2 linked regions of the Homo sapiens genome follow. The protein of the gene in region 1 interacts with the protein of each later gene in a biochemical or structural test. Each region holds a gene or a part of one and is shown on either strand. Other genes may lie near its edges. The genes, in order: RAP1B and RGL2.

The links.
Region 2: the proteins of RAP1B (region 1) and RGL2 form a complex in vitro, tested with the Homo sapiens proteins (one study listed by BioGRID).

What each region holds. Positions count from the first base shown.
Region 1 is NC_000012.12:68,669,716-68,672,513, reverse strand, and holds the end of RAP1B (ras-related protein Rap-1b isoform 1 precursor), read right to left. Parts: 3' UTR 613-2,798; downstream 1-612. UniProt on the Homo sapiens protein: GTP-binding protein that possesses intrinsic GTPase activity. Contributes to the polarizing activity of KRIT1 and CDH5 in the establishment and maintenance of correct endothelial cell polarity and vascular lumen.
Region 2 is NC_000006.12:33,295,802-33,303,528, forward strand, and holds the start of RGL2 (ral guanine nucleotide dissociation stimulator-like 2), read right to left. Parts: upstream 3,142-7,727; 5' UTR 3,069-3,141; intron 2,851-3,068; 5' UTR 2,810-2,850; coding exon 2,654-2,809; intron 2,197-2,653; exon of another isoform or gene 2,092-2,196; coding exon of another isoform or gene 1,997-2,091; intron 1,543-1,996; coding exon of another isoform or gene 1,413-1,542; intron 1,315-1,412; coding exon 1,231-1,314; intron 976-1,230; coding exon 797-975; intron 664-796; coding exon 613-663; intron 525-612; coding exon 227-524; intron 1-226. UniProt on the Homo sapiens protein: Probable guanine nucleotide exchange factor. Putative effector of Ras and/or Rap. Associates with the GTP-bound form of Rap 1A and H-Ras in vitro.

The sequences.
Region 1 (2,798 bases):
ACACCTAGCCAAGGTGTTATTTTAACAATGGAAAATGTAGTATATTTAGTTCATAAATCAAGAGCACAAACGGACTTAAAATATTTCAAGTATATTTTGAGCTACAAACATATTGGCATATAAGAGCAAACTATGCGGCTTTTATAAATGGAAGTGCATTGAAAAGCATAAAATGATGGAATACATATTGACAATGCAATATAATGTTAAGAAAAAGTTGCGTCTATCATGAACATTGCCCTTGAAACTTGTTTAGAAGCTGAATCTGCTGCAAAAAGGGCATTTGGGAAATCTGTGCTTCAGAATCCATCCTGCCTACCTATTTGCAACTTTAAATGATTGAGTTTAACTTTTAGGAAACCCAACATCCTAGAGAAGTCTTTCTGCTTCTTTGTCCTTCACAAGATCAACTGAAGTTCTCTAGCTGTGTAAAAAGGCTGAATTTCAGGTAATGAAAGAAAGTTAAACTGCTTTGGTTTTTTGAATTATTTTCTTGTTTAAATATAAGGTTTAAGTATAATGACAATTATTTTTAAATTTCTAAAATTAATTTTACTCAAAGATAGCATAACAATGTTAAGGAAAAGGAAATAATAATACAGTCATCCATGATACTGTTGCCAGCACCATAATTTTTATTAATGCATATTATCCTCCCATGTATTTTACATTCATATTTTACATATAATGATGACATTCATATAGCTTTTTTTTTTATATTCCAGAAAATGTTATTTACTTGTTACTGACAATGTCTCTTCTAGACGAGTCATCCTGTTTTTTCTCCCGCTGTTGTACTTTTGCTTTTCTTTTTCCACCTACTCAGATCCTTCACTTCCTCACCCCTACTCCTATATCACCATGTCAGGTAATGCATATTAACAACTTGGTAAATATCCTTCAGTTGCTTTCTTCATCTCCTTTCCCAGGTGCCCACATGCATCCCTCACATACATCCTTCTCGGTATTCTGTTTTGTTCACTTTGCACGGGAATCCTTCTAAGTCAACCTTTAAACATCAAACTCATTTTTAAATGAATGCATAATGTTCTATATTATGCATGAATCATAATTTATTCAACTATTCTATTGATGGGCATGCACTCTGTTTTTCCTTCTAGAGTGTGGCAATAAATAATCTTGTGCATTTCCTTTCATTTCCTTGGTGTAGATATCAGTAGTAGAATTGAGGTCAAATATGCATATTTAATTTGAACAGATATCAGCTCTACAATGCACATTTCCATCAGCAATAAATGATTCATTTCTTGCCCTTTACCTCTCTTCTGGGACTGTAGTGTTCTCTGAAGTTTTCGTCCATGTGTTGGGCTCGTTGGTACTTTGATTCGTATTTCTCTGGCTACAGTTAGAGCATCTTTTTATGTTGATGGGCCATTTGGATTTGTTCTTATCTAAACTGCCTAGTTATATATCTTTCAACCATTTATCTTTTGAATAGTTTACCTTTTTTTTTTTTTTTTTTTTTAAACGGAGTATCACTCTTGTTGCCCAGGCTGGAGTGCAATGGCACCATCTTGGCTCACTGCAACTTTCGCCTCCTAGGTTCAAGCAATTCTCCTGCCTCAGCCTCCTGAGTAGCTAGGATTACAGGCATGCACCACCACACCCAGCTAATTTTGTATTTTTAGTAGAGATGGGGTTTCTCCACGTTGGCCAGGCTAGTCTCAAACTCCTGACCTCAGGTGATCCACCCGCCTCGGCCTCCCAAAGTGTTGGGATTACAGGCATGATCCACCGTGCCTGGCCGTGAATAGTTTAATCTTTTATCTGTGCTATACTTTCCCAAATTTGACTTTGCAATATATTTTGCCAAATTTTAAATTTATATATACAGTCTGTGACTTACAGTTTTACTTATAATTTTTCAGCTTTGTGATGGATTTATCAGGGTATTAAATGCATTTTCGACTTACATTTTTGACTTCTGATGGGCTTATTGGGACATAACCCCATTGTAAGCTGAGAAGCATCTGTGTGTACACACACACACACTTATTATTTACTTGAAATATATATCTTAAATATAGCTTCATTTTTAAAAATTAGCTAAGAAGGTCTACCCTATCTCTAGATTTCTAGTCTCTTAGATTTTCTTCTAAGACTTCTACTGTTTTACTTTATAGCTTGAAAACATTTTAATATATCTGGAAAGTGCTTTTTGCATGATATAGGGGTTGAACTTTTATTGTCTTTAGACAGATAGTTAGTTGTGCTAGCATTTTACTGATACTATTTTCTATTGAAATATATTTTTGTCGGCCGGGCACAGTGGCTCACACCTGTAATCCCAGTACTTTGGGAGGCTGAGGCGGGCAGATGACCTGAGGTTGGGAGTTCGCAACTAGCCTGACCAACATGGAGAAACCCCATCTCTACTAAAATACAAAATTAGCCCAGGCGTGGTGGCACATGCCTGTAATCCCAGCTACTCGGGAGGCTGAGGCAGGAGAATCACTTGAACCTGGGAGGCGGAGGTTGTGGTGAACCAAGATCGTGCCATTATACTCCAGTCTGGGCAACAAGAGGGAAACTGTCTCAAAAAAAAAAAAAAAAAAAAGAAAGAAAAAGAAATATATTTTTGTCACGTATAAACGTCATATACTGGAATCTAGTTCTGGACTCAGTTCTACTCTACTCTTTCACTTGAACTTTAAGATCATTTTGCTTAATTTCTTTTCTTTTTTCTTTTTCTTGAGATAGAGATTTGCTCTGTCACCCAGGCTGGAGTGCAGTGGTACAATCTCAGCTACTGCACCCTCTGCCTCCTGGGTTCAAGC
Region 2 (7,727 bases), on another chromosome or scaffold:
GGTCAGCCTTCCAATATCAGGGATCTGAGGATCTCAGGTGGCCAAGGAACCAGAGGGGCACAGGGTTTGAAGGGTAACGACCAAAGGGAAAAGGGGAGAATCAAAATGGTAGGTGGAGGAGGCTAGGAGCTGGATCAGGAAGGGGTGGAAGCAAGGAAAGGATCTGGAGTCAAGGAGAGGTTAGTAAGGGGTCAGGGGGCATAGGGGCCAGAGGTCAGGGTCTCACCGCATCTAGCAGGGTCAGCTGTTCGGCCAAGTGGTCAGCGAGGAACACCAGGACATCCGTGGGGTCAGCAGGGGGATCGCCGGGGAGGGCCAGGGGCTTAGGAAGGTCGGGGGCCTGGGGGTCCACCCGGGACCGGAGATTGCGGATGAGGTCAGCGCTGCCCCCCCCAACACCCTTCCCTGCTGCATACCCTGTCTGAAGTAAGAAGCTCTCAAGCCGGTCAAGCTGACCCTTGGCCTCAGAGCCAAAATCCTCAGGGTGAGAGGCCAGCCAGGTTGACAGTACAGAGATGGCTACCCTGGGAGAAGGGAATCAGCCAAGGGTGAGAGGTAAAGCTGCAGCCTGGGCAGAGGGGACTGTGAGATTAAGAACCAGGGGTCACTCACTCTGTTGTCCTCTCTAGTTCGTCGGTAGGATGAGATTCAAGGGCTTCCAGCCTGAGGGGGAGAAGAGGATCTATCTGTCCATTTTTCCCAAACCCTCAGTGGCTTTGACTATTTTGGTGGGATGTTGCGGCTTTAGGAAATCCGGGCAGATACTCCACTACCCTGCGTCCCTTATGACTCTGACCTGTCAGCCATAAGCCCTAGCAAGGCAGGCGTGGAGGTGAAGGCCCGGTGGGTAGCCAGGAAGGCTGACATGAAGCTCACATCAGTCCCTGATGTCCGGGTATCCAGTAGGTGTCTGACCAGGGCCTCCAGAGTGCCAGCTCGGAGCCGTCGGGAGGAACGTGGGGGAGGCATAGGGACCTGGAGAACACAGAGAGATGATCGCTAACCCTTTCTCCCACTCTGCACCTAGATTTCTGAGGACAATCCCAGACCCAGGAGATGTTCCAGACTCATTTTTCTGATATTCAGAGAGGGCAAGAGTCTTGGCCTATGTCACACAGCAGAGTCCAGGACTCCAGAACTCCAACCTAGCACTCTGGCCAGAAAGTCAGCCAGAGGAAGGAAAACTGGGAATGAAGAGTCAGAGGTGAGAAGCTAAAGTCATGATCTCACCAAGGGATCAAGAGGTCGATATTGGCGGCTTGTGACGGTAAACACGGCACCATCCTCCTCCTCATCCCAGACGGACACAGGGGCCTGGAGGAGCAAGGAAGGGGAAGTCAGACAGTTCCACACCACCCCCCATTGCCCTCAGCCTTCACCCCAGGCCCTGCTCCTCCCTCTGTACCCCTCACCTGTGGTGGCAGGGCATAGTACCAGCGAGTGCGAGGAAGGGTTGGGGGAGCTGGTGACCCCAGGTCTCCCCCACTGGGGCCCAGACAGCCCCACCCCAGCCGCCTCAGGGCCCCGGTGGAGTCGAAGGGGCTGCAGTGGAGGCGTGGATGGAGTACAGGAATTCTGATCCTGGAGACCCCCAAAGCCCCTTCTCCCCAGAGCTGAACCCACACACGACAGAGAAGCAGGGTACAAAGGGCAGGAGAGGGAAGCGAGAGGCAGCAAGCCAGAGGCAGCGACTAGGGGTAGCTGAAACCTCAGTCCAGGCACTGCCGCATGCCCCGCCCCTCCCGGCCAAGGACTATACCAGCCCAGAGAATTAGTCTTTTTCAGGACCCCTTTCACCCTGGTCCCTCGGGTAGCGCCTCCACTATCTCAGCCCTAAGGGACCCCCGAAGGTAGCAGCTCCAATCCCAGTACAGGAAGGAAAAGGGGAAGTGGGATGATAGGGGGTTGGGGGCGGTAGACTCAGAGAGTCACGTGGCCCCAGCCCCTCCCCCGACCGATCCCGAAAAACCAGCCCTGCCAGTCAACCTGCCCTCACCTAGGATCTGGACCTAGGAGTTTAGGGCCTCGGGGCCCCAAATCCAAATTCTGGCCCCTCCTGAGGCCCGAAATCCTGCTCCTGGCCACCACCATTAATCCCTAATGAAAACAGATGACCACTCTCTACCCACCCTAGGATCTTTCCTCCAGGTCCCAGAACCGTGGCTTCCCGGCCTCTACCCAGGACCGGGGCGGGGCGGGGGGGCGGGGGGAAGGGGGAGAGAGGGAAGGAGGGGTCACGAAATCTGAGGGTTCCCTCCCCAATCCCAGAGTCAGAGGAGCTGGTTACTGTGGAAACAAACCCCTCCCCGCCAAACAAAAACAAGGAGGGAGACAGGGACCAAGACACGACTGCTCAGAGAGGTAGGCACACTCAGGCAGGCAGAGGTGGAGGGCCAAAGACCCGCAGGGACAGGACAGCCAGCCAGAAGTTCCAGGCAGGAACAGGGCAGGTTCCTGCGGGCAGGTCCTGAGTCACACTGACAGAGAACCACGGAGACGCCAGGACTCCCCGCAGCAGAGAAACGGGCCGACACCCAGGGAGGCGCGAGAATAACTGAGGCAAGGAGGAGGAGATGTAGGGACCCAGAGACAAGAGAAAAGTGGAGACTTCAGAAATACATACGCCCCCTACCTCCCACCACCCGCGTCTCACCTCTTCTTCTTCCTCCTCCTCTTCCTCCTGCCCCCCGCCCACGACCAGGCCACCTGGGCCCCCACCCTCTTCGGGGTCCCGGCTTCGGAAGCTGCTCAGTACGACTCCCCCGGGGGGGCTCGTGTCCAAAAGCAGCCGCAGGGGCCGCGGGAGCATGGCCGAGTGAAGGAATCAGCGGGGTCGGGCCATGGGGGCGCCTGGGGAGAGACGGGGTGGGGTGGGGGTGGAGAGTCAGGCAGGCGCGGGGGAACCGGGCAGGGAAGGGACGTGGGTGGGTGTCAAGAAGACCGGAAGGGAGTTCTGCAGGAAGGTTGGGGGAGGGGGCAACAGAAGGGTGGAATAGGGGGGCCCTTGGTGCTGTTGGGGAAGGAGGAGGTCACGAGTACGGGGACGCGCAGGGTGCTCAGGCTCTGACCTGCTCGGGAGGGGTGGGGGCAGCGTGGGTCCTGAGCCGCTGTTGCCGTCGGTCTCCGGCCCCGGACCGAGTCCCCTCCCCGGCTTTTCCGTACCCCCTTGAACCCCCCCGCCGGGCTCCTGGGCCCTCCCGCCCTTTCCGCTCCCCCCCGCGTCCGCCCGCTCCGAGAGCAGGAGCCAAAAGGGGAAGGAAGTGAGGACAGGAGCCAGGGCCGCGGACTAGGGGAGCGCTGGACGCTCAGGGACCAGGACCCAGGCGCCCGAGTCCCCAGCTCCACTGTCCTCCGCCTCTACACTCGGGGATTCTGGAGACCACGTCGACCCGCAATGAACTGGAATAAAGATTCCAGTCTCCAGCCCCTGGGGGAAGGCAGGAGCAGAATTTGACATTCCCTTCCCCAACAATAACACGGCTAAAACTCCCGCGGGAAGCGTTTCAGGCGGAGAGAGAGCCGGTCACTCCATCCCCACGGGATTACCCTCCCTACCACAACCCACGAATGTAGCTGACCGAAATCCCGGCCGGGTTTTCCGAAGGGCCCTCGATTCCCGCCCCCTCGGCAGGGGGCGGGGCAGGAAGCAGCCACATCCGGTTCCAGATTCGGCTCTCAGAGGCTTCCGGCGCCGAGACCGAGATCCCCGTCGGCTCGGTGTATCCTCGCTGGTGGAGTACCCTCTGCTTGAGCGCATCTCATGCGCCAGTAGTGGCGCCCGCCCCGAACGGTGTCGACGGGGCGTTCTCTGAGCGGTTCAGGGTCACTGGAAGGGACCAGAGGTGATTGGAATATTCATTGAGCTTGGAAAGGGGTTGGAATGAGAGAACCGTTTGGAAGCACTGGAATACAGCTTTATTCCTACACGATTAGACCCGTTACCCCGTGGGTCTGGCCGACCGTCCTGACTCGGAGATCCCTGAGCTGCGCCGCCGCTTCCTTCGTCAACATCCAGCAGCTACTTGATGAGCGCCCTCCAGTGGGCCTTAGGTCCCTATGCCGGCGCGGGGTTACAGCAGTGGACAGACAGGCCAGTCCCTGTCCTCGAGGAGCCCATGATCCGCGGGGAGACAGGCATTTAACGACGACTCACACGATCACTTAAATACAACTGTGGTGAACCGCACAAGAGGGACGCGCGGCGGTCTGCGGGGAATGACGAGGCCGACCTCGTCTGCGACCCAGGGAGGGCAAGGGTGGACCAGGCAAAGGGAACAGAGGACTGGGACCTGGAGGTGGGCGGGAGGCGTTTGGTTCATTGGAGGAAAGGAATAGCCCTGTGTGTGATGAGCATTGAGAGGAGGTCTGGCGAGCACCATCTAGGGCTGAAGAACTAGGCAGTGGCTCCAGCGCGGGGCGGTGGGGGGGACAAGTGAGCCAGGGCAAGAAGAATGGATTTGGCCCTAGAGTACGGGTTCTCCAAATGTAACCTCGGCCCTACAGATCTCTGAGACTATGTCAGGGGGTTTGTGAGATTTTATAACAAAATTAAGATGTTAGTACAATATCGTGTTTCGCCGCCGGGCGCGGTGGCTCACGCCTGTAATCCCAGCACTTTGGGAGGCCGAGGCGGGCAGATCACAAGGTCAGGAGATCGAGACCATCCTGGCTAACACGGTGAAACCCCGTCTCTACTAAAAACACAAAAAGTTAGCCGGGCGTGGTGGCGGGCCCCTGTAGTCCCAGCTACTCGGGAAGCTGAGGCAGGAGAATGGCGTGAACCCGGGAGGCGGAGCGTGCCGTGAGCCGAGATCGTGCCACTGCACTCCAGCCTGGGCAACAGAGCGAGACTCTGTCTCAGAAAAAAAGAAAGATTATTTGCAGCCGGGCGCGGTGGCTCACGCGGGTAATCCCAATACTTTGGGAGGCCGAGGCGGGCGGATCACCAGGTTAGGAGATCGAGACCATCCTGGCTAACACGGTGAAACCCCGTCTCTACTAAAAAATACAAAATATTAGCCAGGCATGGTGGAGGACGCCTGTAGTCCGAGCTACTTGGGAGGCTGAGGCAGGAGAATGGCGTGAACCCGAGAGGCGGAGCTTGCAGTGAGCCGAGATCGCGCCACTGCACTCCAGCCTGGGCGACAGAGCGAGACTCCGTCTCAAAAAAAAAAAAAAAAAAGTTTTTTGCCTTCTTCATTCTATAAGTGTACAGTGGAGTTTTTCAGAAGCTACATGATATGTATTGACACCATGGTTCCCACGATGAATAGAATGTGTGCCTATGTATTCTCGTGTTTTAAATTTTTCTCACTTTTAAGTTCTAGTACCATAAATATTGATAGCTATAACCCACATACCCAAAAGCTTTTTGGGGTCCTTGATGATTTTTAAGAGGTCCTGAGAGAAAAAAATTTTGAGAACCACTGTCCTAGAGCTCCAAGAAGGTGAATGCCATAAGATGTGTGTTTTTTAAAAAAGCATTTCTCGGGCCTGGTGTGGTGGCTCACGCCTGTAATCCCAGCACTTTGGGAGGCTGAGGTGGGCAGATCACCTGAGGTCAGGAATTCAAGACCAGCCTGGCCAACATGGTGAAACCCCGTCTCTACTAAAAATACAAAAATTCACTGGGTGTGGTGGCATGTGCCTGTAATCCCAGCTACTCCGGAGGCTGAAGCCACAGAATTGCTTGAACCCAGGAGGCGGAGGTTGCAGTAAGCCAAGATCATGCCACTGCACTGCAGCCTGGGCGGAAGAGTGAGACTCCGTCTCAAAAAAAAAAAAAAAAGAAAAATTATCCCTTATATAAGTGAAAGAAAAAAAAAAAAGCATTCCAGCCACTCAGTGGAGAGAGATTGGAGGGATTAGGAGCAGATGATAGGGTATTATTTTAGGGAGCTACTACAGAAGCTTGGGCCAGAGATGATGGTGGCTTCCACAGGATGGCAGTGAGTGCCCTCACTCTGCTTTCTGGAAGAGAGGAAGGTGGTGAGGAATTCAGGATATTAAAAGGCAGTTGAGGTGTACATGGTCAGTTTAGAGACATATAAACTATCATGGGCACAGATGATGGGAGAAGGATGAGGCTAATATTTTCTGCCCTCCAGACACTGCTGAGTGCTGTATCTCCTGCATCTTCTTAAGGAGATACACTGTCTTCCTTAATCCTCCTAAAAGTCCTCTCAGGCTCCGCTGTCCAATATGACAGCCACCACCCACATTAGGCTATTGAGCATTTGATATGTGGCTAGTCCGAATTGAGATGTGCTGACTATTTAAAATAAACACCTGTGTTTGAATACTTAAGGTGAGAAAAGGGCTGCAATTTATTTTCTTTTCTTTCTTTTTTTTTTTTTTTTTTTGAGACAGGGTCTCACTTTGTCACCCAGGCTGGAGTACAGTGGGACAACCTTAGCTCATTGCAGCCTCACCCTCCCAGATTCAAGCGATCCTTCTGCCACAGCTCCCCAAGTAGCTGGGACTATAGCTGTGTGCCACCATGCCCAGCTAATTTGTTTTGTTTTGTTTTGTTTTGTTTTTTGAGACAGAGCCTCACTCTGTTGCCCAGGCTGGAGTGCAGTGGTGCGATCTCGGCTCACTGCAACCTCCACCTCCCAGGTTCAAGCAATTCTCCTGCCTCAGCCTCCTGAGTAGCTGAGATTACAGGTGTGCACCACCATGCCCGGCTAATTTTTCTGTATTTTTAGTAGAGACGGGGTTTCACCATGTTGGCCAGGCTGGTCTTGAACTCCTGACCTCAGGTGATCCGCCCTCCTCAGCCTCCCAAAGTGCTAGGATTACAGGCGTGAACCAACGCACCTGGCCAAGACTGTAATTTCTTTTTCTTTTTTTTTTGTTGTTGAGACGAAGTTTTCCTTTTGTCACCCAGGCTGGAGTGCAATGGTGTGATCTCAGCTCACTGCAACCTCTGCCTCCCAGGTTCAAGCGATTCTCCTGCCCCAGTCTCCCGAGTAGCTGGGATTACAGGTGCCGTCACATCTGGCTAATTTTTTGTATTTTTAGTAGAGATGGGGTTTCATCATGTTGGCTAAGCTGGTCTTGAACTCCTGACCTCAGGTGATCCTCCCGCCTCGGCCTCCCAAAGTGCAGGGATTACAGGCATGAGCCATCGCACCCGGCCTGTAATTTCTTATATTGTTTACATGTTGCAATAATATTTTGGATGTACAGGTTGAGCATCGCCGATCCAAAACTCTAAAATCTGAAATGTTCCAAAACCTGAAATTTTTTTAGTGCCAACATGATGCCACAAGTGGAAAATCCCACAGCTGCCCTCATGTGATGGGTCACATATATTATTAAAAATATTGTGGTCGGGTGCAGCGGTTCACACCTGTAATCCCAACGCTTTGGGAGGCCAAGGCAGCGGGCGGATCACCTGAGGTCGGGAGTTCGAGACCAGCCTGACCAACATGGTGAAACCCCGTCTCTACTAAAAATACAAAAATTAGCCAGGCGTGGTGGTGGGTGCCTGTAATCCCAACTACTCGGGAGGCTAAGGCAGGAGAATCGCTTGAACCTGGGAGGTGGAGGTTGCAGTGAGCCGAGATCGCACCATTGCACCCCAGCCTGGGCGACAGAGACTCTGTCTCAAAAAAAAAGAGAAGGAAAAAAATCTTCAGGCCATGTGTATAAGGTGTATAGGAAACATAAATGATTTCTGTGTTTAGATTTGGGTCTGATCCCAAAGATATTAAATATATGCA